Linked DNA regions of Homo sapiens. The protein of the gene in region 1 interacts with the protein of each later gene in a pairwise test. Each region holds a gene or a part of one and is shown in the gene's direction. Other genes may lie near its edges. The genes, in order: CDC14B and DLC1.

Region 1 (3,821 bases):
AAGACAATCCAAAACAAACGCTATTCCTCTCACGTGAGTCTGGGTTCCTTTGTTGTGGTTGATGTTTCTTCATATGTGTGTGGGGTCCTTGGTGAGGGTTTTTCCTGTACATTTTTCTCCATAGTTGCAAGCCCATGATGCCACTTTGAAATGCTTGCCTATGTTATTTAAAACCTAGGGGTGCTGGCCTTGGAAGCTCTCAGCTGTCCCTTGTTTACCTTGGTCCTCATGAGCCTTTATGGGTGGGAAGGCGACATCAGGGATACTTTTTCTCCATGAATAATCAGCATGGGGCATCCTCAGGAGCGCGACAGCAGATGTAAAGCCCAGGATGCCAGACTTGTCCATAGTTACTAAAGTGGTGTATTTCTTTACATTTGCCATGTTGCAGATCATTTGTTTTGATAAGCATGACATGATGGCTTAATGACATTATGTTGTTTTGGGGCAACAATGAACTGGTCTAAACTATATTTTGGGTTTTTCGTTTGTTTCTTTGGGGAATGATTTTCTAATTATAGAGGAAGATTTAGCCTGAGAATAGGAAATGTTGTAGTACTGAGTGTATGTATGTCTATGTGTACATTCTTGTGAATGTGTGTTAGTTGGGATTCAACCTGATGGAGCATCCAAGATTGTTAGAAAAATATGCAGAAGCAAAGTACATGACCATGGTATTTTTTGTAGGCTGTTCTTTAGTAAATGCTCCCACTTGTTGCCATTGGATTTCTTCCTTCTAGTTACTTCCTTTTTCATTGTGGGACACCAGATTTCCAGCCTTCTTTTTTGCGGGGAGGGAGTGTGATGGACATAGATCATTTATTCAGTAAGCATCTTGTAATATGGTAAGGAAGTATGATATAATATACCATTTATATTGGCAGAGAACAGGTTTTCTTTTCAATTAAAAGTAATTCCTCACTAGTGTCTCGTCATAAAAATTCTGAAGTAGAATTACACCTAAGGCATGTGTCATTATGGGTTGCTCCCCTGGGAGGTTCTTCTTAAAAGACCCAAGGCAAAGAATTGAGTTTTACAATATGCAGTGTTATGTGAATGAATGTAGGGCATCCATTTTGATTATAGGCATTTATTAAGCATTTCTTTTGCAACTTAGTGGTACTTTAGTCAACTATACTTTTTTAAAAATGGTGCCTTTTGGCCAGGTGTGGTGGCTCATGCCTGTAATCCCAGCACTTTGGGAGGCCAAGGTGGGCAGATCACCTGAGGTCAGGAGTTCAAGACCAGCCTGGCCAATATGGTGAAACCCCGTCTCTACAAAAATACAAAAACTAGCCGGGCATGATGGTGGGAGCTGTAGGCATTATAGGATCCCAGCTACTCGGGAGGGTGAGGCAGGAGGATCGCTTGAACCCGGGAGGCAGAGATTGCATTGAGCCGAGATCGTGCCATTGCACTCCAGCCTGGGTGACAGAGTGAGACTCTATCTCAAAAAACAAACAAACAAACAAAAATAGTGCCTTTGTATAATTTACTTAACTCCAAATGCCATTTTGTTTTTAATTTCCTTATTAAAAGTCTTCACCTAAGGCCTTAATGGTTTTTCTTTGGAAGTATTATGGTGGCTCCAGGTAATCATCCAGATACTAATTCTGGATGTGGTGGAGGAGGCAGGCAGCACCCTCGAGCAGTGCTTCTCAGACTTCAGTGTGCAGGAGGCACCCGGGCGCTTGTTGAAATATGGGTTATGATTGGTGGGGTGGGGGTGGGGCCCAAGAGTTCACATTTCTATCCGAGGCTGCTGGTCCAGGGACCACACATTGAATTGCAAGCCCTAGGAAACTGATGCTTTTGTGGGTTGATTTTAGCTGTGTCTGGGATTTTTTGTTTTGTTTTTCAGAATCAGCATCATCAGTTTATGTTTTAATATTTTGTTGCCTGCTGTTCAAAAGTCAAGTTGAGAGTCAGGGGATACAAATCCTGCTTAGTCAAAAGTTTTTGTTAAATAGGAAATTTCCTTTAGTCACCCTCTGAATCTGCTACTCTCATTAACGTGAGTTCAAATCTAGCTGGGCGTGGCTGTGCGCACCTGTAGACCAGGCTATGCGGGAGGCTGAGGCAACAGGACTACTTGAGCCCAGGAGTCTGAGGCTGCAGTGAGCCATGATCACTGCATCCAGCCTGGGTGACAGAGTGAGACCCTGTCTAAATAAATAAGTAAAATCAAGTACAATGGTAAAAGTTAAAAAACAAAGAGGTAGCTCAGGATTCCTTTTGGTAATATCCCAAAAACAATATATATAAATAGCCCCACATAACACAAATAACAAAGTTTTAGGCCACACTTTTAAAGAAGAAAGCGAAATGCTAGTTTTTCTAAGCTCTGAGTTATGTGTATAGACCCGAGGGGATTTTTGATGAGTCTCAGCAAATCTCCTTCCTCCTCCCTTACAACATTTTGCTTATCCCCGTCTCTGCTTTTTCAAACCCTCTCTGCTATTATTTGCAGTTTTTTGGCCCTAGAAAAGATCAATTGAAGATTTTCTTTCTTTCCCTCTTGTGTCTATGTTGTTATTTTAGGAATAGAAGTCCCTGAGGGACTGTTCTCAACAGTTGCTTGGGTTGAAAAATACAAAATCAATTTCTTCATCCAAGTTTGACTCATTGATTTCTGTGAGCAAGTTATTTTGCTTTAGCATTGGCACTTAGCCTTATGAAAATACAGTACATGCAAGAAGGAAAGTTAGTGAGAAATACACAAGTACTAGTGATTCTTAGGAGAAGGTTATAGTACATAAAATATTATTCCAATGATTGGTTTCTCTTTTTTTTTTTTTTTTTTTTTTTAAGACAGAGTCTTGCTCTGTTGGCCGGGCTGGAGTGCAATGGTGTGCCCTCGGCTCACTGCAACCTCTGCCTCCCAGGTTCAAGTGATTCTGCTGCCTGAGCCTCCGGAGTATCTGGGATTATGCACCACCACACCCAGCTAATTTTTTGTATTTTTAGTAGAGACAAGGTTTCACCATGTTGGCCAGGCTGGTCTCGAAATCCTGACCTCAAGTGGTACACCCACCTCAGCCTCCCAAAGTGCTAGGATTACAGGCATGAACCACCGGCGCCTGGCCGGTTTCTCTTTTATAAATGGTCAGTTTTGGGGGAGAGTTTAAGTTTTTAGTGATTATAAAATGGCCATTTGCTCAGCCTGTCTGATCCTGACTACAATGATGACAGGAAACCATGTGGCACCATGACATTGAGCTGATCTTCAGGACGTGATGACAAGTATATTGTCTGTGCTAAAATGGATTTGGTAGATTGCATAACTTGAGCCATGAGGCCTGTCGTTCTGCATACTGATGGTTTTGGTAGGTTTGGAGATGAGTATATCTGTTAGCAATGGAAAATAATTCTTTTTTTATTTTTATTTTTTATTTTTATTTTTGAGACAGAGTATCGCCCTGTCGCCCAGGCTGGAGTAAAGTGGTGCGATCTCGGCTCACTGCAAGCTCCGCCTCCTGGGATCATGCCATTCTCCTGCCTCAGCCTCCCAAGTAGCTGGGAATACAGGCGCCCACCACCACGCCCGGCTAAATTTTTGTATTTTTAGTAGAGACAGGGTTTCACTGTGTTAGCCAGGATGGTCTCGATCTCCTGACCTCGTGATCTGCCCACCTTGGCCTCCCAAAGTGCTGGGATTACAGGTGTGAGCCACTGCACCCGGCCGGAAAATAATTCTTAAGCCATGAGGTTTACTAGAGGAAAAAGTAACCATCTATAATGCTGACACTTGGACATTCGGGCCATTCTGCCTTTAAGGAACTGAAGGTGAAGGCTGGGATCGGTAGAGAGTTCTCTAGGGC
Region 2 (3,821 bases), on another chromosome or scaffold:
CCTGCCTCAGCCTCCCGAGTAGCTGGGACTATAGGTGCCTGCCACCACGCCCAGCTAATTTTTATATTTTTAGTAGAGACGGGGTTTCACCATGTTGGCCAGGCTGGTCTCGAGCTCCTGACCTTATGATCCACCCGGCTTAGCCTCCCAAAGTGCTGGGATTACAGGCGTGAGCCACTGCGCCCGGCCACATTTAAATAGTTCTTAAAGTTGACTGGGGCATTCCAACTGCAATGGGATACAGAGCTAGAGATGAGTAGAGGAGAGAGATCAAATAAGATGAAGACAAAAGGTCAAGGAAACAATGGACTTAGCCCTCACCTGTGGGAGGGGGCCTGTGTATTCAGGCAGATAAAGATGATGACACCCTTTACTCCAACTCCCTGGGACTCCTTTCCCACACTCCTCAGAAGTTGCTCCCCCACCATGCAAACACAGCCCCTACAAGCTGCCCTGTTCCCAGTAGGAACCTATTTAATTAAATGGTTTGAATCACCTGGATTTCATCAAAAGCATATCTCTTTAATGTTTTTTTGTGTGTTGTTGACAAAACTCTGAGATACTCTGGTGACCAAAGTAAAAACACTCTTAATCCACTTAACAATAAACAGATTCCAGTGAAAATTTTTTTTTCTCTCTTCTTTGGGTTTCCTTGAATAATACCTTGAAGAAAAATATATAAATATTTGAACTGTTCCCCTCCTGTATTTCTTCTACCTAGGGTAATGCAAAGAAAACAAAGTTTGGGCAAACCAGATCAGAAAGATTTGAATGAAAACCTAGCTGCCACTCAAGGGCTGGCCCATATGATCGCCGAGTGCAAGAAGCTTTTCCAGGTAAGGAATTGAGAAGTTTGGCTCCTTTATTAAGGATAATGTGAATAGGTACAAAATCTTAGGCTTGACCCTTGTTCATGTCTTACCTGAAGACCTTTTCCACAGCTGGAGACGGTATAAATAGCCTGAGAATGTCTTATTTACATATATTATAATGTATCAGCTAGAGTTAATCATGTTTAATGAAATTGTCCCTTTACTTGGAAAAGCAGCCGGGCGCAGTGGCTCACGCCTGTAATTCTAACACTTTGGGAGGCTGAGGTGGGTGGATCACTTGAGCTCCGGAGTTCAAGACCAACCCGGGCAACATGGTGAGACCTCATCTCTACAAAAAAAAATTTAAAAATTAGCCGGGTGTGGTGGTGCACACCTGTAGTCTCAACTACTTGGGAGGCTGAGGTGGGAGGATCACCTGAGCCCAGGGATGTGGAGGTTGCAATGAACCAATATTTTGCCACTGCACTCCACTAGGTAACAGAATGAAACTCTCTCTCAAAAAAAAAAAAAAGAAAGAAAGAAAGAAAAAGCAACAAATTATCTGGAATTAAACTGCTGTATCCACTTCCGTATCTGAGAAACCTGCTTTGACCAATGTAATTCACTCCCCCTACTCTAACTTTCCAAAGACCTTACATGGAAATAAGATTTCAGATACATTTATGGAGGTGATCTGTTCATATCCTCGTGATAACACGTGCGGTCAGCATGATAGCCCACCTCCGGCGGGAAGATGCCTGCACTGCTTTAAGGACCAGGCCATTGTTCCTACCCAGTCTTTTCCACTGATGGGCATTGAGATTGAGTACAGGTGGACTCACCTCCTTTCTGTCTGTCATGTTCCGCACAGGTTCCCGAGGAAATGAGCCGATGTCGTAATTCCTATACCGAACAAGAGCTGAAGCCCCTCACTCTGGAAGCACTCGGGCACCTGGGTAATGATGACTCAGCTGACTACCAACACTTCCTCCAGGACTGTGTGGATGGCCTGTTTAAAGAAGTCAAAGAGAAGTTTAAAGGCTGGGTCAGCTACTCCACTTCGGAGCAGGCTGAGCTGTCCTATAAGAAGGTAAGGCTTCACCCTGTTGTCGGCTAGTTGAGTCCAGGAGTCGAAGCTTGGGTCCATCAGAGATAACACGCTTTTGCCAACTAATCTGTCTGGGGATCTGTAGCCCACAACCTCCCTTGTAGAGCTGGGCACCGGGGTGAGTAAGATCCCCGTGGTGAGAGTGGAAACCGGGCAAAGCAAGAGTAATTTTCTTCCTGTGTAACACTTGGGAGAGGATTTCAACTATTTCTAATGAACTCCTTTGGCTCTACAGAATCACACTAGACTTCCCTAGAATGTTTTGCTAATGGCATTGAGATGCGGAACATCCTATGACACGCTTCGATTTTTCCATAATTTGGTCAGAATCCCTTTGCACTCTTCTCTGTTCTTAGTTACTGTTCTCTTGGCCCTTTAATGAGCGGGGATCCCTTAGGGGGAAATTAACTCCAGTTAGGACTGGTAAACCTCTTGAGGGCAGAGGCATCTTGTAAGGCTCAGCAGGATAGGTCCATCGGAGGTATATGTTGATGCCGCCTCTACCATCTTGAAAATAAACAAACAGTGGGAGTAGGCTGGGTGGCCTTGCCGGCTTTGGAAATGAGTGCAAATGTCTGATGTTTTTGTTTTTATTTATTTATATTTTTTGAGATGGAGTCTTGCTCTGTCACCCAGGCTGGAGTGCAGTGGCATGATCTCGGCTCACTGCAACCTCTGCCTCCCGGTTTCAAGCTATTCTCTTGCCTCAGCCTCCCGAGTAGCTGGCGCTACAGGTGCCCACCACCACGCCATGCTAATTTTTGTATTTTTAGTAGAGACGGGGTTTCACCATATTGGCCAGGCTGGTCTCGAACTCCTGACCTTGTGACTGCCCACCTTGGCCTCCCAAAGTGCTGGGATTATAGGCGTGAGCCACCATGCCCTGCCAGTGACTGATATTTCTTTATTGCATGCACTCTGATATAGGTCCCAGAAAAAAAAAAACAAATGTCATCATTTTTTTCTTTTTTCTTTTGAGATGGAGTTTCATTCTCATCACCCAGGCTGGAGTGCAGTGGTGTGATCTCAGCTCACTGCAAAGTGCCTCCTAGGTTCAAGTGATTCTCCTTCCTCAGCCTCCTGAGTAGCTGGACTTACAGGTGCCTGCCACCACGCCTGGCTAATTTCCATATTTTTAGTAGAGACAGGGTTTCACCATGTTGGCCAGGCTGGTCTTGAACTCCTGACCTCAGATGATCCACCCGCCTCGGCTTCCCAAAGTGCTGGGATTACAGGAATGAGCCACTGCACCCGGCTCAAATGTCATCATTTTGACTCGAGTTGACAACAGCTTTTTTTCACTTTCTGGCTTGCTCTTAAATATGCTTGGGGACAGCAGCCTATTTAAGTCATAGATTTATTAGCCCCCAATATTTCTTTATATACTGATTATATAGTATTATTTATATCATTTAATCAATTAACGTTGATTATATGTAACTAAAATTGTTAGTCTAACTAACAATTCGACTTCAAAAACTAGGTGTGTATGGATTGCCTTGGCACTGAAAAATACATCCTCTTTCCAGGTGAGCGAAGGACCCCCTCTGAGGCTTTGGAGGTCAGTCATTGAAGTCCCTGCTGTGCCAGAGGAAATCTTAAAGCGCCTACTTAAAGAACAGCACCTCTGGGATGTAGACCTGTTGGATTCAAAAGTGATCGAAATTCTGGACAGCCAAACTGAAATTTACCAGTATGTCCAAAACAGTATGGCACCTCATCCTGCTCGAGACTACGTTGTTTTAAGGTGAGCGCTTCCCAGTTGTTTTTTTGTGACAAGGATGACTCCATATATGAACCAAGCCTATATGTCACTGATCTTACAAGATGGTATAATTATTTAAAGTAGAGGCCGGGCATATGGTGGCTCACACCTGTAATCCCAGCACTCTGGGAGGCCA

The links.
Region 2: the proteins of CDC14B (region 1) and DLC1 interact in a two-hybrid assay, tested with the Homo sapiens proteins (one large-scale study listed by BioGRID and IntAct).

What each region holds. Positions count from the first base shown.
Region 1 is NC_000009.12:96,518,718-96,522,538, reverse strand, and holds part of CDC14B (dual specificity protein phosphatase CDC14B), read left to right. Parts: coding exon 1-33; intron 34-3,821.
Region 2 is NC_000008.11:13,088,333-13,092,153, reverse strand, and holds part of DLC1 (rho GTPase-activating protein 7), read left to right. Parts: intron 1-721; coding exon 722-836; intron 837-1,683; coding exon 1,684-1,902; intron 1,903-3,449; coding exon 3,450-3,667; intron 3,668-3,821. UniProt on the Homo sapiens protein: Functions as a GTPase-activating protein for the small GTPases RHOA, RHOB, RHOC and CDC42, terminating their downstream signaling.